Linked DNA regions of Homo sapiens: all the other regions are linked to region 1. The links come from fine-mapping of genetic effects on gene expression. A gene starts in region 1. Each other region holds a variant in brackets. All regions are shown on one strand. Distances are between the middles of the regions. Region 1 holds the start of WWP2 (WW domain containing E3 ubiquitin protein ligase 2). Region 2 overlaps WWP2 (WW domain containing E3 ubiquitin protein ligase 2). Region 3 overlaps WWP2 (WW domain containing E3 ubiquitin protein ligase 2).

Region 1 (8,179 bases):
GCTAACTAAAGCCACTAGGTGTAGCTGACATGGTCAGTAAGTGGTGAAAATAACGTAACACCCAGACAAACTGATTCAGAGCCACTTTTTTCTCTCTTCTCTTCTTTTTTCTTTCCTTTCCTTTTCTCTCTCTCTCTTTCTTTCTTTCTTTCTTTTTTTTTTTTTTGAGACACGGTCTCTCTCTGTTGCCCAGGCTGGTGTGCAGTGGCATGATCATAGTTCACTGCAACCTTGAACTCCCAGGCTCAAGTGAGCCTCCTACCTCAGCCTCTCGAGTAGCTGGCACCACAGGCCCACACCACCATGCCCAGCTAGTTTTTTCATTTTTACTTTTGTAGAGATGAGAGTCTCATCATGTTGCCCAGGCTGGTCTGAAACTCCCAGGTTCAAGCAGTCCTTTAGCCTTGGCCTCCCAAAGTGCTGGGATTACAGGTGTGAGACACGGTGCTGTCCCTGAGCCACCTAATTATCCATTCTGTTATACTGACTGCTGCTTATGTGCCTTCACTTCATTTTGAGCAACGTGGGGCCAGAGTCTGTCTAATTTGTCTTAATAGTCTCACCCCACCTCCCTAAGCAACACACATAATTTGGTAGCAAATAATTCCTTGCTGAATTGAACAGAAGGTGTATTTAGTGACTTCTACGTTTCCTTGCAAATCTGAAATTTTATGATTATAAGATCCGGTGAATTTTGCTGAATGTCGACTTGGGTCTTCATGCAAACTTTCTTCATGAAGTCTTCACGCCAGCTGGATTCCTCAATTGTCATTTATCTGTCCTACCCCAAAAATCCTTCAGTGCTACTGAATATTGCCTTTCAGCAATTACCCAAATTCAGTCTTTCTCTTTTTTTGGGGTGGCGGGAAGGGGACTGAGTTTTGCTCTCGTCGCCCAGGCTGGAGCACAGTGGTGCGATCTCAGCTCACTGCCACCTCTGCCTCCCAGGTTCAACAATTCTCCTGCCTCAGCCTCCTGTGTAGCTGAGATTATGGGTGCCCGCCACCACGCCTGGCTAATTTTTGTATTTTTAGTACAGATGGGGTTTCACCATATTGGCCAGATGGTCTCGAACTCCTGATGTACGGTGATCCACCTGCCTTGGCCTCCCAAAGTGCTAGAATTACAGGCGTGAGCCATTGCACCTGGCTCAACCTTTCTCACCACTCAGTCTCTTCATTATCTAGAACGTGCCTGTGCTACCTGCCGTAACAGAGTATGGCTGGAGGCTATTTCTCATTTTCTAGTTTATCATATCAATTTTTTTTTTTTGAGACAGAGTCTCACCCTGTCATCCAGGCTGGAGTCCAGTGTGCAATCTTGGCTCACTGCAACCTCCGCCTCCCAGGTTCAAGCGATTCTCAAGCCTCAGGCTCCTGATTAGCTGGGACTACGGGTGTGTGCCACCATGCCCAGCTAATATTTGTATTTTTTGTAGAGATGGGTTTTCACCATGTTGCCCAGTCTGATCTCGAGCCCCTGACAGTCTGATCTGCCCGCCTTGGCCTCCCAAAGTACTGGGATTACAGGTGCCAGCCACCGCACCCTGTCAGATTTTATTCTTTTAATGTGCAGTGTGTGCTCTTTGCTTGTCCCTTCTCCCCTTTGGTGAACACTTACTCAGATGCCACTAAATCTTTTCTGCAGGGTTGTTAAAAAAAAGCAACAAAAGATAAAAAATGAAATATGAAAGAAGAAAACAAACCGAAACCAACAAATGCTAGTAAGTCAAGGAAATAGTCTCTAATTTATCTAGAACAGAATTAGTAAAACTGCCATCAATGGAACTGGAGAAGTTTTAGTTATAGTAGTTTTATAAATGAGACTAATATAGGGTTTAATGTACAAAGACAGGACTGTATCTCCTTGAAAGTTAATCTCTTGGATTTGGAGTGGTACTACAAAAAGTAGAGACTAAGTGTTCAACCTATTTATTTATTTAGATACAGAGTCTCACTCTGTCGCCCAGGCTGGAGTGCAGAGGCGTTATCATGGCTCACTGCCACCTCCGCCTCCCGGGTTCAAGCAATTCTCCTGCCTCAGGTTCTGGAGTACCTGGGATTACCCGCACCCGGACCATGCCCGGCGAATCTTTTTTTTTTTTTTTTTTGTAGTTTTAGTAGAGATGGGGTTTCACCAGGTTGGCCAAGTGGGTTTCGAACTCCCGACCTCAGGTAATCCACCTGCCTCTGCCTCCCAAAGTGCTGGGATTACAGGCGTGAGCCTCCACGCCCCACCAGCCAATTTAATTTGTATGCATGATAGAATCCATCCCAATTCGAAGACCCAAAAATAACAGATTAGTACAAGTCTTTGAGGCTAATTACGTCATTAGTATTAATTTTAATCAATGGTGATTAAACTGAGCCTTCATTCAACTTGTCCAGAACATCAGTCAAGAATGTCTATTTAAAATGTTCTTGGAGGCCGGGCGCATTGGCTCACGCCTATAATCTGAGCACTTTGGGAGGCCAAGGCAGGTGGATCATCTGAGGTTAGGAGTTTGAGACCAGCCTGGCCAACATGGTGAAACCCCATCTCTATTAAAAATACAAAAATTAGCCAGGCATGGTGGTGGGTGCCTGTAGTCCCAGCTACTCAGGAGGCTGAGGAAGGAGAATTGCTTGAACCTGGGAGGCAGAGGTTGCAGTGAGCCAAGATTGAGCCACTGCACTCCTGCCTGGGCTACAAGAGTGAAACTCTGTCTCAAGCAAGCAAATAAATAAATAAATAAATAAATAAATAAAGTTATTGGGCAGGCACAGTGGCATTCGCCTGTAGTCTCAGCTACTTGGGAGGCTGAAGCAAGAGGACTGCTTGAAGCTGGGAGTTCGAGCCCAGCCAAAGCAACCTATCCAGACCCATCTCTTAAAAAAAATATTTCTCTGCCAGGTGCGGTGGTTCATGCCTGTAATCCCAGCACTTTGGGAGGCCAAGGTGGGCGGATCATTTGAAGTCAGGTGTTCGAGACCAGACTGGTCAACATGGAGGAACCCTGTCTCTACTAAAAATGCAAAAATTAGCCAGGCGTGGTGGTGCACGCCTGTAATCCCAGCTACTCGGGAGGCTGAGGCAGGAGAATTGCATGAACCGGCGAGACGGAGGTTGCAGTCAGCTGAGACTGCACCACTGCACTCCAGCCTGGGCGACAGAGCGAGGCTCCATCTCAAAAAAAAAAAAAAAAATATCATCTATCTATCCACCTACCTACCTACCTACCTACCTGGATTATAATTCATTAAGTTCTCTGTGCCCTGTAGTTGTAGATTAAGGGAATGCGATTGGATTAGTGTGGAGGGGCTTTTTATGGAGCCAAGCAGGAGTTTTTAAGCTTTTGTACTTTTGCTTCATGTCACAAGGACAGATGCCCCACAAAGGCTGAGATGTTTGTGGTCCTGGATCTTAGAACAGTGCCTGGCACATAATAGGCATAAGGTTGCCAGGAAATAGAAATACAGATACTCAATTCAATTTGATCTTCAGATAATCAAAAAATACTTTTTTTAGTATAAATATGTCCCATTCTGTATTTGGGACATACATATTACACTGTTGTTTATCTGAAATTCAAATTTAAGTGGGTGTCCTGTACTTTATCTGGCAACCCTACTAAAGGAGCTCAATTAAGTATTTGCTGACTTAACAGTCTGAAGGTCTCGTTTCACCTGTAAAATGGGGCTAGTACCTGTCCCTGCCTCTATAAGGTTGATGGGCAGAGTAGGTGGCATTCAGTGAGCCCTCAATTTATTTGATTGCCTGGGACCATCCGGTGAGCAGAAACCCTTCCACTTTCAACTACAGAGACGATAAAAAGGCCTCCTCGAGGCCAGAGGTGCCCAGGCCAGGCCTAGGTGGCCCGCACCTGCGAGCCTGGCCAGCCTCTTCCGGGTCAGGTGACCGCGCGCGGTCACGTGACCCGGCCCGAGTGCGGGCGGTGGAAGGCGGAAGTAGGAGAGGAGTTCGGCGCCGCTTCTGTGGCCACGGCAGGTAGCGAGCGCTGGCGCGGGGGGCGCGGTGGGCTGGCTGCCTGCACGGGGCGGGCCGGGGGCGGCGGGCGGCGCGGGGTGGGCCGGGGGCGGCGCGGCCCGGGCGTCGGGGGGCGGCGGCTTCCTGTGGGAGGGGCCTGGCGCGGCGGTTCCGGCCTCCGAGGAGGGGTGTCCCGGCTCCCGCCCGAGTGGGGTGGGCGCGCCGCGGCCCGCGCGGGGGTTGCTCCGAAATGGGTGCCCCGGCCGCCAAGGGTGCAGCTGGAGCGAGTCCTCCCGGAAGGGGAGAGGAGCTTAGGTTCCCAGGCATGGAGAGGAGCGATCTTTGTGGAGGGATCGGGACCAGGGGAAGGGGCGACTTGGAACTGAGCTGGAAGGGGGTGCCTGAAAATGGGTTTATGGCGTGGAGCCAGAGGGAAAAAGATGCTGCCTGGACCCCCTCTGAGAGTCTCTCCCTTCCTTCCTGTTTGGAAATGATTGTTACCCGAGACTTTGATGACGGTCCCATTCAGTTTTTAAACTTCAGGAGGGATCACAGAATCTTGATCGTCTTGCTTCCCTCGCGCCCACTTAGTCCTGCGTGGGTAGGGTTTCCACTTCTTGGGAGCCTAGCCCTTCAGCTCATTTTTCTTTGAGATTTTCCCTGAACGGGCCATCATCGAGGCTTTAAAAAACAAAAAAAGAAAATAAATTAAAAAAATAAGTGTGGGCACTTTGCCTGTAAAATGGCTTTTAGCTTACACTGTTGACCTAGCCCAGCGTTACCTCAGCAACATAGTGACTGCTGAAATCTTGGACAGAGAAGTGTCTACCTAGACTGCTTTATGACTTTTCTCTTTCTTCCGTTTAAATTATTCAGTTTCCCTTAGCTTATCTTGTGACTGCTTATCTTGACGAACTGTAACTAGGTAGGGTGCCTGAGAGGTCTGTGTTATGTTCCTTAGAACTGTGACCTGGATCATGATTTTGAGATTGAATACTTGTGTTAAAGCCTGTTCATCTTCCTGTTTCTCATGTTTACTAAAATTTGCAGAAGCAAAAGGAGTTTCATGAGTGCAGTGTAACTGGAACGAATGTTCAAACTGGACATTCACAGCAGCCAGCATCGTTTTGGGTTACAAGTAGGAAAAAGTACTTTCCTAATGTATTATGAGTTCAAGTTTTTGGAGTTATTTGACAAACATTTAAAAATTAGTTTTTGCAGCAGCGCCTATGAGTGAGGTTGGGAAGATGTATTCTCATTTCACAGGGAACAAACAGACTTACGAGAGACGACTTGATTTTTTAAAACAATTTATTGCTCTTTCTTGTTTGCTGGCCTCTTCCTGCTAGATTGCAAATCCTTCAAGGGCAGGTTTCATATTTTATTTGGCTGCTAGCCTAGTGCCTGGCATGTTGTGAGCACTTGATAAATATTTGGTGAATAAATGCATTTCTAAAAGTCACACCGGCGTAAGTGGTGACAAAGGATTTGAACCCAAGTCTTCTACTCTTTTTCTTGTCAGAGAAGCTTGTGATTATCTGTGTCATTGGTCCATATGAAAACAGGCTCGAGAGAAAGGCTTGGATTGGCTTCTCAGTCTCTTTCACTTCATGATTACTTTCCCATTTACAAAGAGCGTATACCAACATCTCACTTAACCTTCCCTTTGAAATTGGGATGGTCAGTATTGTCCCTATATCACATGAAGAGACTGAGGCTTAATGAAGTCCTTACTTTAGATTTCAGAGCTAGTAAATGAGTAGGGACTCAAGCCCAGACCCTTAATCCTTAGATCCATTCTTTTTCATTTATTGACACAATAGAAAATTTTATTTTTATTTTATTTTGAGACAGGATCTTACTCTGTTGCCCAGGCTGGAGTGCAGTGGCACAATCACGGCTCACTGTAACCTTGACCTGCCTGGGCTCGGGTGATCCTCCCATGTCTGCCTCCCAAACAGCTGGGACTACAGGTGGGTGCCACCTCGCCTGGCTAATTTTTGTAGAGACAGGGGTTTTGCTATGTTGCCCGGGCTGTTTTCAAACTCCGGGGCTCAAGCGATCCTCCCACCTCGGCCTCTCAAAGTGTTGCAATTACAGGTGTAAGTCACCATGCCCAACTGAAAGTTTTATTTTTACATAATTTTTCAGGAATAAAAAGTGTAACATTTTAAGGAAAAAGATCACACAGAAAAAGTTGTGAATGTAGAATGTGAGTAAATGAAGTTTAGAAAACGCTGTACTCTACCATAGCTTCCTCTTCCTGGGAAAACATTCTTTCATTCAGTGAATATTTATAAGTACCCACTCTGTCTTTGCCAGGCATTGTTGTAGAGTCCAGTATGGTGTACACTAGCCACATGGGGCTGCTGAGCACTGGAGCTATGCTGTGAGCATAAAATACATTCTGGATTTTGAAGACTTAGCATGAAGAAAAGTAAAATGTCTCATTGATACTTTTTATGTTATAGTAAACGATCATATAATGTATAAACATGTATGATAACATTTTGGATTTATTGGGTTAAATACAACGTAATTATAAATAGTTGGTCAGACATGGTGGCTCATGCCTATAATTCCAGCACTTTGGGAGGTCAAGGTGGATAGATTGCTTGAGCCCAGGAATTTGGGACCAGCCTGGGCAACATGGTGAAACCCTGTCTCTACAAAAAATACAAAAATTAGCCAGGTGCAGTGGCGCCCGCCTGGCTACTCAGGAGGCTGAGGTGGGAGGATCACCCAAGCCTGGGGAGGTGGAGGCTGCAGTGAGTTGTGATCGTGCCACTCATTGCACTCTAGCCTAGGTGACAGAGTGAGACCCTGTCTCAAAAAAAAGAAAAAGAAAAAGAAAAAAAGTTTCACCTTTTTGTCTTTTTTTTTCCCACTTAACCTTGACTTGAAACCCAGCACTTTTTTCTTTTTAAAATGTATTTCCTAGAAAAATAAAAAATTATAAATGTGGCTTGCACTTGTGGCTCCCATCTTATTTCTATTGGACAAACCTGTTCTGAATGCCAGGAATATAGCAGTACAAGAAAGGTAAGGATCCCCACCCTTGTGGATCTTCAATTTTATTAGAGAAGGGCACATTGATAACTAAGTATAATATGTATTATGTTGTAATAAAGCAGGGAAGAGGGATGTAGGTTGCAGTTTAAATAGGATCCTGGCCAGGTGCGGTGGCTCACGCCTGTAATTCCAGAACTTTTGGAGGCTGAGACGGGCGGATCACTTGAGGTCAGGATTTCAAGACCAGCCTGACCAACATGGTGAAACCCCATCTCTACCCAAAATACAAAAATTAGCTGGGCTTGTTGGCACATGTGTCTAATTCCAGCTACTCGGGAGGCTGAGGCACGAGAATTGCTTGAGCTCGGGAGATGGAGGTTGCAGTGAACCAAGATCGCGCCACTGCACTCCAGCCTAGGTGATGAAGTGAGACTCCGTCTTGCTTTTGGAGAGATGGGGAGTTGGGGGCGGGGGTTCTCACTTTTGCCCAGGCTGGTCTTGAACACTTGGCCTCAAGACATCCTCCTGCCTCAGCCTCCGAAAGTGCTGAGATTACAGGCATGAACCATTGCACCTGGCTCAGTCTCTTAACTCTAAATACTATCCACATGCTAACAGCTTCCATATGTGTGTCTAGCCTAGGCCTGTCTCGAGACTTCTAGATCTAATTGCCCACAATATCTTCACGTGGATTCCTATCAGGCATTTTATAATCAACATCAACAAAATTGAGCCCTACACCTGCCCCTCAGACAGCCTTCCCCATCTCAGTTAATGACAACTCCATTCCTCCAGTTGTTCAAGCCAAAGACCTTGGAGTCACCCTTGACTCGTCTCTTCCTCTCACACCCCACATCCAACTCAGCTCGTCCACAAAGCCTACTGGCTGTACTTCAGAGTACACCCTGGATGCATCTTTCCCCTGGATGATGGCAACAGCCTCCTAACTTGTCTCCCTCTTCCACCCTGGCTGGCCTTCACTTTCTCCACACAGGACCCAGGGCAAGTCTGTTAAAAGGCAGGGTGGATCCTGTCCACTCCACTGCCCAACTCAAACCCTCCAATTGTCCCAGCTTAACTGGAGTGAAAACCAATACCCTACAATGGCCTGCAAGCCTTCCATGACCTGATCTCTCCTCCCACACCCACCACCACCCTGACCTCCTCTCTCCACTCCTGCTTACTCAATCCCCTCCAGCCA
Region 2 (8,179 bases), 110 kb after region 1:
TGTCTCTGACCTCGCATCTCATCATGGCTGGGAATTAAGGTTTTTAAGGTTTCTCTGGCGTCTTCTTGGCCAAGAGGGGGTCCATTCAGTTGGTTGAGGAGCTTAGGATTTTATTATTATTTCTCAGTATTGTGGACTGTCCTGTCATTTTTTTGGACAGTGTCTTTAGAAGAGCAGGAGTTTAAAATTTTTGATGAAGCCACAAAATGCTTTTTAAAAAAAGGTTTCACATTTTATTTATTTATTTATTTATTTATTTATTTATTTATTTATTTATTTATGGAGACGGAGTCTTCCTACATTGCCTGGGCCAGTCTCAATTGATCCTCCTGCCTCAGCCTCCCAAAGTGCTGGGATTACAGGCATGAGCCACTGCACCTAGCCTCATTTTATTAGATATTTTTGCTTTCTACAAATTTCTTCCCTATTTCCCCCTCTCCCTAGCTCCTTGCAACCATCATCCCGCTTTCTCACTCAATTAGTTTGGCTACTCCAGGTAACATTTAAATGGAACCACACAGGATTTGTCTTTTTGCCACGGGCTTCTTTCACTTAGCAGAATGTCCTCGAGGTTCATCCATGTGGTAGCCTGTGTCAAAATTTCCTTCCTTTTTAAGGTTGAGTAATACTCATATGTATGCATATACCATACTTTATCCATTTGTCGAGGATGGGTTGCTTCTACCTCTTGGCTATTGTGAATAATGCTGTTGTCTACCTGCGTGTGCAAATATCTCTCCTGAGGTCTTGCTTTCAGTTCCGTATTTATTTATTTATTTATTTATTTATTTATTTATTTATTTATTTATTTATTTTTGAGACGGAGTCTCGCTCTGTCGCCCAGGCTGGAATGCAGTGGTGCGATCTTGGCTCACTGAAACCTCCGCCTCCTGGATTCGAGTGATTCTTCTGCCTCAGGCTCCTGAGTAGCTGGGACTACAGACATGCGCCACCAGGCCTGGCTAATTTTTGTTTTTAGTAGAGTTGGGGTTTTGCCATGTTGGCCAGGCTGGTCTCGAACTCCTGACCTCAGGTGATCCACCTGCCTCAGCCTCCTGAAGTGCTGGGATTATAGGCATGAGCCACTACACCTGGCCAAGGCTTTTTTTTTTTTTTTTTAAACCAAACAAACAAAATCCTGTTTTGTTTAATTACTCCACATGATCTGTTGCAAAGGTGACAATGGTCAGCGAGGCTGCACTGAGGTAACACTGTCACGTGGTCAGCCAGGCTCACTCACCAGCAGGTGGCTTCCCCAAAGCAGCATTGTGTGCTATGATAGAAATTTGTGTCTCAGCAGAATTACAAATCACAGCATTTCCACTAAGGTGGAAGCTCCTTGAGGTCAGGGACTCTGTTTTATCTCTAGAATGGGGCCTAACACTCAGAAAAGGATGATTGAGTACATTTCAGCGGCCCTCATGAAGGGCGAGGCCAGGTGTCCCATGACACCCAAGGCTCTGGCTGTCAGGGTGTAGCTGAGGATGGAGGCCAGGGCTTTGACCATCAAAGCTTAAATGCCAAGTGTCAGTGAGCAGCTCTGTCCTGGGGACCTCATCTGTGTCAGAACCACTTTGGGGAGCGTGGGTCCTGGTCGTGGCTGGCCTGCCTTCAGGAGGCCTCAGTTCTTGAGAGAGGACCTTGAGTGAGGACACACCGCATCCTGAGAAGGGCGAGCTACAAAGAGAGCTGAATTTCTGTAATGAGTTGACTTAAAACCATTTGTGGAGTTTGGCCTGACTGGCACTGCCATTCTAACTGCTTTCTGCCTGCCCTGGGGGCTGTATAACTCGTCCCCTCCCCCTAAATGGTGAGGGGGCTTGGGCCAAGGTTGAAGTCATGGGCAGAGCCGAGCCTGGCTGTCTCAGCCATCACCCTGCATTTGTCTGGGTGCTATTTTGGCCCACGATGTGTGGTTTCAGCATCTGGGCCAGCTTTTCATTACAATATGATCCCATCTTTTATGGGTTGAGTGAGTTCTCCAAGAGAGGAAACTGCCAAAGAGAGGAGTTGCCTCAGATGTTGAGGCCTTTTCTTCCTTTAAGCATCTTATTTTAAAGGTAACACAAGAGCCAAAAACTGGAAACTCCAGATTTAGGGCAAGGGGAGAATCTGGGGAGAGGGGATGTGGTGTTTGTGTGTGTGTTGGGGGGTGGTGGCTGGCCACGGGCAGGGAGGTGGCAGTTCATGCAAAGTGATCCCAGCTGCCCCTAGCTTAGGGCTGATCCCGCCCTGCCCAGCCCATCATTCAGGGTAAGCCGCTATCATTAGTGGTTAAGTGTTTCTGAAAGTATTCTCTCTCCATGCTGACCACATGCCCTTTCTGGGAAGGGAGGGCAGGGCCAGGGAGTAATGGGACCCACCCTATTGTCATGCCCAGCTGCTCTGCAGAGGGACAGGGAACCCGGGGCTGGAGTTGATCATGGACATGTCTGTCTGAGGGGTTGACAGTGCACGTTTTGCAGGTCCTGCAGCTCCCTGAGGGGTCCAGCTTGCTCCTGGGGGCTGCAAGTTCCAAATCAGAGAGGCTTTTTGTCCTAGTAAAGGGATCCTTGGCTGAAACAAACCTTCTATTAACCAATTTTCTCCCTCAAGCTCTCTGCCCTCAACACATACACATGTGCACACACACACACACACACACACACACACACAGACATACACACACAGATATACACACATACACACACACCAGCTTGCTGAGGGCTGCCTGCCTTTCCCTTTGGAACTCATTTGTGCTCATTCCACTTTTGAGGAGGAGCTGTGGTGAAATGCTTAAGGTGAACATTTCTTCCCATGAAGTGGGAACTTTGAAATATTCATCTTTGACTGAGGTGTGGTTGACAGCTTTTTGTTGTTGTTGTTGAGACAGAGTCTCTCTCTGTGTTGTCCAGGCTGGAGTGCAGTGGTACAATCTCGGCTCACTGCGACCTCCACCTCCCGGGTTCTAAGTGATTCTCCTGCCTCAGCCTCTGAAGTAGCTGGGATTATAAGCGCTCACCACCATGCCTGGCTAATTTTGTATTTTTAGTAGAGATGGGGTTTCGCCATGTTGGCCAGGCTGGTCTCGAACTCCTGACCTCAGGTGATCCACCTGCCTCAGCCTCCCAAAGTGCTGGGATTACAGGCATGAGCCACTGTGTGCGGCCAACAGCTTTTGATTTATGAAATTAGCTCAGGGAAAAAGTTAAGGTGGAAAAAGAGAGTCCACATTGAGTATTTCCACAGTTCAGTCGTACTCTGTCTCCATTGCCATGCAGTGTTTAGGTATGAGGGACTCCAGAGTTTGCTACGTTTCTCCCTTTTTCTCCTTTTTTTTTTTTGTTGGGGATTGGGGGCAAGAAAAACTTAATTTTTTTTTTTTGTTAAACAAGGTCTCACTCTTTTGCCACGCTCTCAGGCTGAAGTGATCCTCCTGCCTTGGCCTCCCAAGTACCTGGGACCACAGGGGCACGCCACCACACCTGGCTAATTTTTTAAATTTTTTGCTAGAGATGAGGTCTCCCTGTGTTGCCCAGGCTGGTCTCAAACTCTTG[A/G]GCTCAAGTGCCGTCCCATCTCAGCCTCCCAAAGCGTTGGGATTACAGGTGTGAGCCACTGCACCCAGCCAAAAAGTCATGTTTTTTTCCTTACTCACAAGTATACAAGCTCAATGAAGGAAGCTGGAAAAATCTAGAAGAGCACAAAAGGGCTTCTTTATTCCCAATATCCAAAGATAATGACGGTTAAGATTTTGGTTTATGTTCATCTTGTCAAATTCTGTTTCTTACTTTAGAGAAGGTAGCTGGTCTGGGTGGTTCATATCCCTCAAGGAGCTTCCTGTTGACTGCCTCAACACACTGGACCAAAGACTCCCAGCAGGGTCGTTCTGCTGGAGGTGGATCCTCCCAATGGGGAACTTTCTATTATAGCTCTTAATTTCACCATTGTCCAAATGACCAACAAAAAAATAGCCCAAGAGGAATTTAGCTTGAGTTCAGGCTTCCTGTCCCATCTTCTGACCTAAGAGCCTAGGCTCTTGACATTAAACTGCCTGTACATGAATCTTTGCATCATTTGGCTTACTTTCTGTAGAGCTTCTCTGTGTCTGTTTGCTTATCTGTAAAGCGGGGATAATAATATTAATCTACCTTTAGGGTTCCCATGTTAAATGAGAACATATATGTAAATGCATAGCACACACAGTGCCTGGAACATAATGTTAGAGTTCAGTGAATATTATATACTTCTGTAGCCATTATTATTACCTTTATTTATTTATCCTTTTTTTTTTTTTTTTTGGAGACACTCTCACTCACTCTGTCACCCAGGCTGGAATACAGTGACGTGATCTTGGCTCCCTGAAACCTCTACCTTCTGGGCTCAAATGATCCTCCTACTTCAGCCTCTTGAGTAGCTGGGACTACAGGCATGCACCGGTAGTGCAGCTAGTTTTGTTTATTTTTTGTAGAGGCAGGGTCTCATTATGTTGCCCAGGCTGGTCTCAAACTCCTGGGCTCAAGTGATCCTCCCGCCTTGGCCTCCCAAAGTGTTAGGATAACAGGCGTGAGCCACTGTGCCCAGCCACCTTTATTGTTGAGAGTAGTTTTATCGCCCCATGTTGCATGGTACAAATTGTCTCTGGGTCTCTGTTTCTCTGTCTGGAGAGGGGTGATCTTTTCTTCACTGGATGGTATTTGAAACATCTCACAGTTGCAAAGTAGTAGATGCTTACTAAGTAGTAGAAGAGCCTCGTTTGGTGAAACAGATGAACCGAAGGACAGGGAGGCTTAGACATTTTCACTGAGTGGGCAAAGTCAAGCTGCAAAAAGAACTTGAGAGCACATGCTGCCTGTTGCCTTGTGTTCTCTGAAGATGTCTGATAGGTTTTCTGCTGCTAAATTCCACACTTTTCTTTGTGATTTCTGCATTGCTTCTCATTTACTTGGATGGATTGTTGAGTCATCTTTTCTAGATAAAACATGTCTAGGCCAGGCATAGTGGCTCATACTTGTAATCCCAGCACTTTGGGAGGCTGAGGTGGGAGGATCGTTTGAGCTCAGGAGTTTGAGACCAGCCTTGGCAACATAGCAAGACCCCATCTCCCCAAAAATAAAAAAATGAGCCAGGCGTGGTGCTGTGTGCCTATAGTCCAGCTACTGGGGAGGCTGAGGTGGAAGGATCACTTGAGCCCAAGAGTTTGAGGCTGCAATGAGCTATGATCGTGCCACTCCAGCCTGGGCAGCAGAGTGTGACCCTGTCTCTAAACAAACAAGTGAATGACAACAACAAAAAGTGTCAACATATGCATTGACTAAAAGTTGTTTAATGCCCCTTGACTTTTATTGCCAAGGGAATCATCTTTCTAGCTATAGAGAAAATTGCTTTGGATAAGTTTTGAGCTCTTCTTGCCTAATGGGGGAAATATTTCATCTGAGCCTGTCCAGTGATTCTTGTTTATTTGTAACATTTGAGCCCAATAAAAATAATGTGATGGTCACAGGATATTTTGCCAATTATTTCAGATGTAGGGGCAATTCACTCTGGATTTGTTTACTTGAAGTGGAAAAGTTTACACAAAGTTACCTTCTGAGCTTTTACCAAAAAGGAAACTTCCCTGGGTCTCTCTGCTTGGAACCAGCTTCTGTTTAGTCCAAAACTAGAGGGGCTATTAAAGGTCTTGTTTCCAATAAATGGCAGGAGAAGGGAATATGATGACTTAGGTAGGAAACACTTCTGTCCTTTTCACAGTGACTTATGTCTGTCTGCTTTCTACTTTGAACCCCCAGGACGCACAGACATTCGGGTGCTTCAGCCAGAACAACCCCAGCAACCGGCGAGCAAAGCCCCGGTGCTCGGAGCCGGCACCGCCAGCCCGTCAAGAACTCAGGCCACAGTGGCTTGGCCAATGGCACAGGTGAGTGATGGCACCGCACGCCAGCCTGCACTGAAGCTGTGGGCTCTCACCCGTTCTAACGTGGACACGGGATCCTGCCCACTGTGTCAGAATAGAGGGTGGGCGTCAGAAGGCTCTAGGACTAAACTGGATTTGAATCCATCAGTCTTTCTACTGACCCATCTTCTTCTCTCTCTGGCATATTCTGTACAGCCAAGGTTATTCTCCATATGACTGCGCTCTTCTAAAATACTCATTTGCACAGAAATAAAAAGTCTTGTCTTTCTATAAAGACAATAAAAAGAAATGTCTTTTTTTTTTTTTGAGACGGAGTCTCACCCTGTCGCCCAGGCTGGAGTGCAGTGGCGTGATCTCGGCTCACTGCAAGCTCCGCCTCCCGGGTTCATGCCATTCTTCTGCCTCAGCCTCCTGAGTAGCTGGGACTACAGGCGCCCACTGCCACGCCCGGCTAATTTTTTGTGTTTTTAGTGGAGACAGGGTTTCACCGTGTTAGCCAGGATGGTCTTGATCTCCTGACCTTGTGATCGCCCGTCTTGGCCTCCCAAAGTTCTGGGATTACAGACGTGAGCCACTGCGCCTAGCCTTTCTATTCATTTCTTATCTGCATTGGATTTCATGTTGGGGAGGATATCTCATTTATACATAGCATATTTTTTATTTCCTTCACGTAAGGGAATTATCAGACTAAGGAAATGTAGGACTAAGTATTGTTGCTAAGAGCTGAGTCAGATGATGGCACCACTGGTGAATGGGTTGAGATGCTGACTGGGGCAGAGCCAGGTAACTACTTGGGGGTGTGCAGGGGCCATCCCGATGGGGGCCCCATTTGAGAGGAGACAGTGCCGTCCACGTGCGCATGGAACTTCCCCACACTTGGCTCTGCTTCCCCGTAAGTGAGACGGGAAGGACCTATTTCAAAACAACTCATTTTCCGTCCTGCTCTCCCTCTCTCTCATCAGGACAGAGTCAAAAAGGAAAAAGAAAAAACAAACCCATTCATTTCTATAAACTTCTCAAAGATTGTCAAATCTTTAGAGACTGCTGGTCGTTTGGTAGTTTGTCTTCATTTCGGGCAGTTGGGCTGGGATGTAGATGTTTCGCTTGGATGAATTGTAGGTAGAGGAATGCAGGTGTTGAAATTTGGTAAGTGACGCTGAGATAGTTTTCTAGTGCTCGTGACAGCAGAGGTGTGGCGTAAAGGCCAGGAGACCCAGAGCAGCATGGCTTTTCACGGAAGTGTTGTTGTGGCATTGTTAAGTGACCTCTGTGACAAACTTACTGAGTGGAAGAAATTGATTTGGGTTCCTTTGCAATACCCTTCAGTTCTGTGGCAGCACCATATGGGGGCTTCAGAGTCCCCGTGGCTGCTGCTGTTGCCTGGGTACCCTGTCATCTTCTGTGGACCACAAGATGGAGTGGTCTGTGTCCTACAAAGCGCACTGTGAGTGCAGTGGCCTGACCTCCTCCCTGAAGTTTGGGAGCTGCCTGAAGGACTTGAGTGAACTGACTAGCCCACCCTGAGCCTTGGGGAAGAGGAGGAGCTGCAGGTGGGGAGTCCCAGGGCTGCCGTCTCAGCTGCCTGGCGCCCCTGTGCCACCCACTGTATCCTTGTGCTGGAACATCCGGTGGTAGCTGAGCCTGGCCTTCCTGTCTGTGTGAAGGAGACAGCAAAGTGATGGCCGTGAGCCATAGTATAGAGAACCATAGGCAGCTCTGCGAGCATTTTTCTCTTAGAAAACTCAGTGGCTTGTGGAGGAGGGCAGTGTTTACAAATGGGGATGGGGGACTGGCTTTTAGGAACCAGCTGATTCCCAGGTGCCATGGCAGAGCTACTAGCAGCTTTGTTCTGCCAGATGCCTGTGTTATTGAGATCATGGTTTCCCGCAGCTACCTCTGCTTTTCCTATAAAAACTATTGGTGAATTGATTTTCTTTGGTGATGGTCCTTGAGTCACTCTTGGACATTTCAATAGAGCTATATTTCCCCTACATTTATTTTTAGGTACCATTACTTGTTGTCCTTATCTCTAGGAACCTTATGTTCTAGCAGACAAGGCAGGTGCCAGCCGTGTCTTCAAAAGCCAGGCGTCTCTAACCTTGGACTGCCTTGGAAGTGTTTCATGGTGGTGTCTCTCAGTGCCCAAACCTGTTCCTAAGATCCATCTCTGAAGGGCAGTTGTATTTTAGGGATTTCTGCCCACTCCAGTGCTGAGGGCTTGATGTCCATCTCTCCCCTTTCTGCTGTGATGGTGGTTCACCTTTACCTCACAGGCAGCCTGTACTTTAT
Region 3 (8,179 bases), 89 kb after region 1:
ATCCTGGGCTCCAGGGATCCTCTTGCTTTAGCCTCCCAAGTAGCTGGGACTACAGGTGTGTGCCAGGCCCTACACCTGCTGCCAGGCTCTTTTTATTATTTATTTATTTATTTTTAAATTTGAGATGGAGTCTTGCTCTGTCGCCCAGGCTGGAGTGCAGTGCCACGATCTCGGCTCACTATAAACTCTGCCTCCCAGGTTCAAGCAATTCTCCTGTCTCATCCTCCAGAGTAGCTGGGACTACAGGCACATGCCACCATGCCCGACTAATTTTTGCATTTTTAGTAGAGACGGGGTTTCACCATATTGGTCAGGCTGGTCTCAAACTCCTGACTTCAGGCGATCCACGCACCTTGGCCTCCCAAAGTGCTGGGATTACAGGCATGAGCCACCATGCCCTGCCTTTTTATTTATTTTTCTTATTTTTTTTTTTTTTAATTTTTTTGAGATGGAGTTTCACTCTTGTTGCCCAGGGTGGACTGCAATGGTGCAAACTCAGCTCACTGCAACTTCTCTCTCCCAGGTTCAAGCTATTCTCCTGCCTCAGCCCCTGAGTAGCTGGGATTACAGGCATGCGCCACCATGCCTGACTAATTTTGTATTTTTAGTAGAGATGGGGTTTCTCCATGTTGGTCAGGCTGGTCTCGAACTCCCGACCTCAGGTGATCTGCCCGCCTCGGCCTCCTAAAGTGCTGGGATTACAGCTGTGAGCCACCGCGCCTGGCCAGGCTCTTTTTAATAACCCATTCTTGCAGGTTCCCAACAGAGAGAACTCACTCACCCCCATGAGAGGACATTAATTTATTCATGAGGGATCCACCCCCATGACCTAAACACCTCCCACTAGGTCTCACCTCCCAACTCTGCCACATTGGGAATCAAATTTCAACATGAATTTTGGTGGGGACAAACTGCATCCAAACCATAGCAGGGAGTCAAGTTGGAATGAAGCCCACAGGACTGTCTGTGAGTGGAGCTGCTCCTCCTAGCACCTCACGACTTCCTCTGGCTTGAATAACTGGCTCCTCTGTCTAGAATCTCAGTAAAATTTCCATAGTCATACAGGGAAATGGAACAACAACAACAAAATGAGAAGAATGCATTTAATTTGCTTTTTGATTCATAAAATTTTTCATTAATAGGGATTAACATAAGGGATCTTAGTTAAGAAGCTGTCAGCTGGGCGCAGTGGCTCAGCGTGCAGGCTGGGTGTAATCCCAGCGCTTTGGGAGGCTGAGGTGAGTGGATCACCTGAGGTCGGAAGTTCAAGACCAGCCTGACCAACATGGAGAAACCCCATCTCTTCTAAAAATACAAAGTTAGCCAGGCGTGGTGGCGCATGCCTGTAATCCCGGCTACGTGGGGAGCTGAGGCAGGAGAATCACTTGAATCTGGGAAGTGGAGGTTGTGGTGAGCCCAGATCGTGCCATTGCACTCCAGCCTGGTCAACAAGAGCAAAGCTCCATCTCAAAAAAAAAAAACAAACAAACAAGAAGCGAAGTGTCAATAGCTAGGTGCAGTGGCTCATGCCTGTAATCCCAGCACTTTGGGAGGCTGAGTTGGGAGGATTGCTTGAGCCCAGGAATTTGAGGCTATAGTGAGCCAAGATGGAGACCCTGCAATCCAGCCTGGGCAACAGAGCTAGATGCTGTTGCTAAAAAAAAAAAAAAAAAAAAAAAAGAAGCTATATATAGAGCCTTCAACAATTTATTTTCCTTTCTTATGTGTATATGTATTTAAGCTATTTTGTTTAAGAATGCATGTGAACGCACATGAGAGAGTGTGTATGTGTGTGTTTGTGTGTGCATGTAGGCCTGGGGACCTTGGATTTGCCTGTGGCCCTCATCAGCTGTCAGTAGTGGCCAGTGTTGGTCACAATCTGCATTTTAAGATGTCTTTCCCAGTGATTTTTTTACATGGAAAAGTTTCAGAGCCTCTTAGATAGTTTTCTTTCTCACTCCTTTACTCTTCTTTTTTTGTCCTGCTTTGATGAAAACATATCAGATTTATTGGCTCCCTTGCCTTGGCATTAACGGCCTCTGAAGATTTAAAAGATCTGTAATCTCGGAGACTTATAAAGCCTAACCGTCTCCGGTGAGCTCTAAATAGATCATCAACTGTGTCTGCAGACAGCCTATCCCAGAAAGGAAAGAAAAATAAACTCAGGCGGGTGTGAGTCCACTGTGAACACTTCAGGAAGTCCTGGGAGGGCCGGGGGAGAATTGGGAAGCAGAGCTAGCAGGGAGGAGGGGTGGAGGGTGGATAGGAGCTGAGCCTTGGGCACTAGGCCATTCTCACAGTCATTGTTGGCTGGCGGTTGCCACCCCTCCTTCCACTGAGGTGACTAAAGGCTGCTTGATTGGGAACTGCAGTTATTTAGAGATGTTGCCCTGTCAGCAGGAAAGTCCTCCCATGCAGTAGCTTATGCTTAAAATCTGGGTATTGCCTCATTTCTGTTGCTGGGGAAGACAATGGAATAAGTGTTATTTATTTATTTATTTATTCATTCATTCATTCATTCATTCATTCATTCAGTTATAATTAAGACATAGTCCCTGCTCAAAGTCCCTGCTTGTAGGCAGGGCTTTCTTCTGAGCAGTTGGTAAATATGGAATAGGATTGAGACAGTGGTCAAGGGTCCCACTGCATTCTCCAAGCCAGACGTTGAAAAGTAATCATGGCTGGGCATGGTGGCTGTATGCCTGAGTCCCAGCTCTTTGGGAGGCTGAGGCAGAAGGATCGCTTGAGGCCAGGAGTTTGAGGCTGCAGTGAGTTATGATCGTGCCACTGCACTCCAGCCTGGACAACATAGGGAGACCCTGTCTCTTAAAAAAAAAATCATGGAGATTAATTACACACTCATTTATACATTGGTTTATTTTGCATCAATTAAAATGATACATGGTACCTTATTATACATTTATTTATTGCATAGATATTTATTTGGCATTTACTCTGTATGAGCCTAGAGAGATGTTTATAATGCCAGATGTGGCATGCGCCAGAAAGCTGGTTATAAACTAGGAGGAAGGAAGGCAAATCTCTGCCGTTGAAGGCAATATTCACTTGATATACATGAATGCCAGGCTCTGAGCTGTCGTGGTGATTAAAAGATGAAAAGTCGGCCGGGCGCAGTGGCTCACGCCTGTAATCCCAGCACTTTGGGAGGCCAAGGTGGGCAGATCATGAGGTCAGGAGATTGAGACCATCCTGGCTAACACGGTGAAACCCCGTCCCTACTAAAAATACAAAAAAATTAGCCGGGCGTGGTGGTGTGCGCCTGTAGTCCCAGCTACTCGGGAGGCTGAGGCAGGAGAATGGTGTGAACCCAGGAGGTGGAGCTTGCAGTGAGCCGAGATCACACCACTGCACTCCAGCCTGGGCAACAGACTGAGACTCCATCT[C/CA]AAAAAAAAAAAAAAAATGATGAAAAGTCAGGGTCCCTGACATCAGGGAGTGTCTCTAGTAGGAGACAGATGCATGGATGAGTTAGAGTCTAGTGTGATGGATCCATGGTGATGGTATGTACACATGCAAGAGGAATGTAGTGGGACATTACCTAGATATGCCTGGGAGATTTGGGGAAGACCTCCCACATTTGAGCAGTATTTTGAAGGAGTTTGCCAGACCGACGAAGTGGGGTTCAGGGATGTCACTGCAGGCAGAGGGTACAGCATGAGTGAAGGCAAGGAGGAGTAAGAGAACTTGATGTATTTGAGGAAATAAAAGTCATTTAGAAATGTTGACATGTAAGATATTAGGGATGATAGCGTAGCAAACTAGGGTTTGCAGGCTGAATCCAGCCTGCCATCTGCTTTTTTGTTGGTGTTCTTGTTTGTTTGTTTGTTTTTGCTGGGTGAAATCTGCCGTGTTTTTTTTAGAGCACTTTTAGGTTCCCCCAAACATATATACTCTCTTCCCCACTATCAACATCCCCCACCAGAGTGGTACATTTGTTAGAATGATGAGCCTGCATTGACACATCATTGTCACTCAAAGTCCAAAATGTATATTAGGTTTCACTCTTTAATTTTTTTTTTTTTTTTTTGGACAGAGTCTCGCTCTGTCATTCCACTGGCTGGAGTGCAGTGGCTCAATCTCAGCTTACTGCAACCTCTGCCTCCCAGGTTCAAGTGAGTCTCATGCCTCAGCCTCCTGAGTAGCTGGGATTACAAGCATTCACCACCATGCCCAGCTAATTTTTTTTTTTTGTATTTTTAGTAGAGATGAGGTTTCCCCATGTTGGCCAGGCTGGTCTTGAACTCCTGGACTCAAGTGATCCACGTGCCTTGGCCCTCACATGTATCCACCATTACTCTGTCATACAGAGTAGTTTCACTGCCCTGTGCTTCATCTATTCATCTCTCCCTCCCGTCCCCAGCCCATTGTAACCACTGATATTTTATTGTCTGCATAGTTTTGCCATTTCCAGAATGTCGTATAGCTGGATCATAGAGTATATAGCCTTGTCAGATTGGCTTCTTTCACTTAGTAATTGGGATTTACGTTTCTTTCACGTCTTCTCATGGCTTGATATTTTGGGTACTGAATAATATTTCATTGTCTGCATGTACCACAGTTTATCCATTCACTTTTACATTCCTCCTCCACAGTTTATTCATTCATTTACTGGTTGCTTCCAAGTTTTGGCAATGATGAATAATAAAGCTGCCATAAACATTAGTGTGCAGGTTTCTGTGCAGATAAAAGTTTTCAACTCGGTCGGGAACGGTGGCTCATGCCTGTAATCCTAGCACTGTGGGAGGCCGAGGCAGGCATATCGCAAGGTCAAGAGATCCAGACCATCCTGGCCAACATAGTGAAACCCCATCTCTAGTAAAAATACAAAAAAAAATTAGCTGGGCGTGGTAGTGCGCTCCTGGAGTCCCAGCTACTCGGGAGGCTGAGGCAGGAGAATAGCTTAAATCTGGGGGGTGGAGTTTGCAGTGAGCTGAGATCACGCCACTGCACTCCAGCCTGGCGACAGAGCAGCGAGATTCCAGCTAAAACAAAACAAAACAAAACAAAACAAAGTTTTTAACTTGCTTGGGTAAATACAAAGGAACATGATTGCTGGGTCATATGGTAAAAGTATGCTTAGTTTTGTAAGAAACTGCTAAACTGTTTTCCAAAACGGCTGCACCAGTTTGCATTGCCACCAGCAGTGAGTGAGAGTTCCTGTTGCTCCACATCTTCACCAGGTTTGATGTAGTCCATTTTCTGGATTTTGGCTATTCTAATGGGTATCTAGTGATATCTCACTTTAATTTGCATTTCCTGGATGATATATGATGTGGAGAGTCTCTTTTTTTTTTTGAGAAAGAGCCTCACTCTGTTGTCCAGGCTGGAGTGCAATGGTGTGATCTCGGCTTACTGCACCCTCCACCTCCTAGGTTCAAGTGATTCTCCTGCCTCAGCCTCCTGAGTAGCTGGGTGGCACCTGCCACCACGCCCAGCTAATTTTTTTGTATTTTAAGTAGAAACTGGGTTTCACCATGTTGGCCAGGTTGGTCTCGAACTCCTGACCTCAGGTGATCCGCCCACCTCGGCCTCCCAAAGTGCTGGGATTACAGGCATGAGCTGCCTTGCCCGGCCTATGATATGGAGAGTCTTTTCATATGCTTATATTCCATCTGTATATCTTCTTTGGCAGGGTGTCTGTTCAGGTCCTTTGCCCATTTTAAAAATCTGGTTGTTCATGTTCTTATTGTTGAGTTTTAAGCATTTTTTGTATATTTTGGATAGCAGTTCTTTATCAGATATATGTTTTGCCAATATTTTCTCCCAGTCTGCGGCTTGTCTTCTCATTCTCTTTACCACCTGTTTTTGGAAATACAGTTTTATTTTTATATGGCCATACTCATTTATTTTCATATTGTCTGTGGCTACTTTCATGCTACGATGGTATGTTAAGTAGTTAGAACAGAGATCTTATGGTCAGCAAAACCTAAAAGATTTACGATTTGGCTCTTTGCAGAAAGTTTGCCAGTCCCTGGCTGTAGGAGATGGTTTGAAGGCAAGAGCAGTTCACAAAGGGTCTTTTGTGTTTTACTGAGGACTGTAGATTTTATTCTTTGGAGACAGGGAACCAGTGGATTTTGAGCAAGGCAATGGTAAGGCTATTTCTGCGGTAAATTATTCAGGAAAGTAGTCTAATGGATGAATTCGGAGCTATATCAGTTGGGGTTCATTGCAGGAAACAGAAAACACTCTAGGTATTTTGAGCAGAAAAGGATTTAATATGGGGAATTAGATGCTTATAAAAGTCACTGGATGGGCTGATGCAATAGGAGTGAGGGGTCTCCCTGAGGTCTTTGGTTACAGGCTCACAGGCTTGCAGCTCCAGTTCACATGCCAAGAAACTACTGTGCCCTTGCAACCGCTTTATGTATTTGAAGTGGGTGTGCAGGCGATGAGGCATGGTGTCTGCTGGAGCCCCTGCCAGTCACCACCACCACAGGACAAATGGCTTCTGCCTTCCTTCTGCTTTCCAACCTTTCTGCAAGAACTTCTCATTGGTGCAACCTAAATCACACCCAGAGCCTATCTGCAGGAGGGTCTGGAAGTCTTCTAGGCCCTGCAGTGCGTCAGGGCGGGCATATGGGATAGAAGAGGGTGGGAATGTCTGATACAGTGGGGCTGAGACCAGACTCAGGGACTGACGAAGAGGACTGTTGCAGGAACTGGTGAGGTTACAATTGATGACTAGCCTTGGGCAGTAGCGAATAGAGAGGAGACAAGAGAAATACCTAGGAGGTGTAATTAAGCAGGACTGCATGGCTGGCTAATGAGACAAGGTGAAGGGTAAGGAGGGAGGGGGGTACTCCCAGATTCCTCTACTGTGCTGTCATTCATGGAGACAAGAGACGCAAGAGGCGGGGAGCTAATGAAGATGTCACTTTAAAACCACATCTCCCATGGTGGTCGGCTTTGGTGTTCAGCAGGGTTTATGGAACATTGGTACTGCCTGGCTCTGGGGCAGAGTCATTTCTCTGAAAGTGCACCCATAGGAGGAGGAATGAGAACCTAACTGAAGAGACACAGAGAGAAACATCGTATTCCTGACAGTGAACCACAGGGCCACAATAAGGGCACAATTCAGGGCACGTGAGTGCTAGTTCTACTTGAACCAGATCTGTATCTGGATTCTACTACTTCTTGGTCCTAGAAAATTGTGATCGAAAGGGGACAAGTTTAGAGAGAAGCCAATAAAAAGAGTATGGGTGTTGGAGAAATGACTTTCTAGTCTTGAGAGCTTGGTAGCTTGACCATGTGCTGATGGAAGACCAGAACAGAACTGGCTGCAAATGCTTTAGACAGATGTGGATGGCGAGGAAAGAGGGGTGCTTCAGCCATGGTGTTTGTGGCTGTGGTTTGGTGAGATGAGGTTCGACTTTTCCTTTCGGATTCTGTTGGAACTGGATGGCTCCTTTTAAAGTGCCAAGGTCTGTGGAGGTGGTGATTTGGGGTTTGGTTTAGTGACTGCCTTTCTGGTGGCATTTAAATAGCCTAAATAGAATGACTCCTTTCAAACGTTGAATCAATTCTGTATGTAGGCTTTTCTTTTTTTTTTTAAGTTTATTTATTTTTGAGATGGAATCTTGCTCTGTCGCCCAGGCTGGAGTGCAGTGGCACGATCTTGGCTCACTGCAAACTCTGCCTTCTGGGTTCAAGCAGTTCTCATGCCTCAGCCTCCTGAGTAGCTGTGACTACAGGCACCTGCCACCACGCCTGGATAATTTTTGTATTTTTAGTAGAGGCGAGGTTTCGCCAAGTTGGTCATGCTGGTCTCGAACTCCTGACCTCAGGTGATCCACCTGCCTTGGCCTCCCAAAGTGCTGGGATTACAAGTGTGGGCCACCGCGCCTAGCCTCTTTTTTGTTTTTTAAAATTTTGAGACAGGGTCTTGTTCTGTCATCCAGGCTAGAGTACAGTGGTGCAATCAAGGCCCACTGCAGCCTCAACCTCCAAGGCTCAAGTGATCCTCTTGCCTCAGCCTCCCAAATAGCTGGGACTACAGGTGTGCACCACCACAGTAGGCTAATTTTTAAAATTTTTTGTAGAGATAAGGTCTCCCCAGGCTGGTCTTGAACTCTGAACTCAAGCGATCCACCAGCCTTGGCCTTCCAAAGTGCTGGGATTACAGGCATGAGCCGCTGAGCCCCAGCCGGCTTTTCATTTT

Evidence for each region. PIP is the estimated chance that this variant, and not a neighbour inherited with it, causes the effect.
Region 2: its variant is fine-mapped to the expression of WWP2 in whole blood (TOPMed, PIP above 0.99).
Region 3: its variant is fine-mapped to the expression of WWP2 in whole blood (INTERVAL, PIP 0.95).

The regions. Positions count from the first base shown.
Region 1 is chr16:69,758,405-69,766,583 of GRCh38, forward strand. It overlaps WWP2 (WW domain containing E3 ubiquitin protein ligase 2), which reads left to right and starts at 3,928. Exons shown (of 24, transcript NM_001270454.2): 1 at 3,928-3,987. RefSeq lists an enhancer at 3,733-4,311 and silencers at 4,015-4,154, 4,175-4,334, 4,355-4,404.
Region 2 is chr16:69,866,039-69,874,217 of GRCh38, forward strand. WWP2 (WW domain containing E3 ubiquitin protein ligase 2) reads left to right here. Exons shown (of 24, transcript NM_001270454.2): 7 at 5,766-5,893. Among named protein-coding and RNA genes, the nearest start is that of MIR140, 63 kb to the right of the region's middle. The variant A/G (reference allele first, on the strand shown) is at 3,537.
Region 3 is chr16:69,846,982-69,855,160 of GRCh38, forward strand. All of the region lies in intron 6 of WWP2 (WW domain containing E3 ubiquitin protein ligase 2), which reads left to right. Among named protein-coding and RNA genes, the nearest start is that of MIR140, 82 kb to the right of the region's middle. The variant C/CA (reference allele first, on the strand shown) is at 3,405.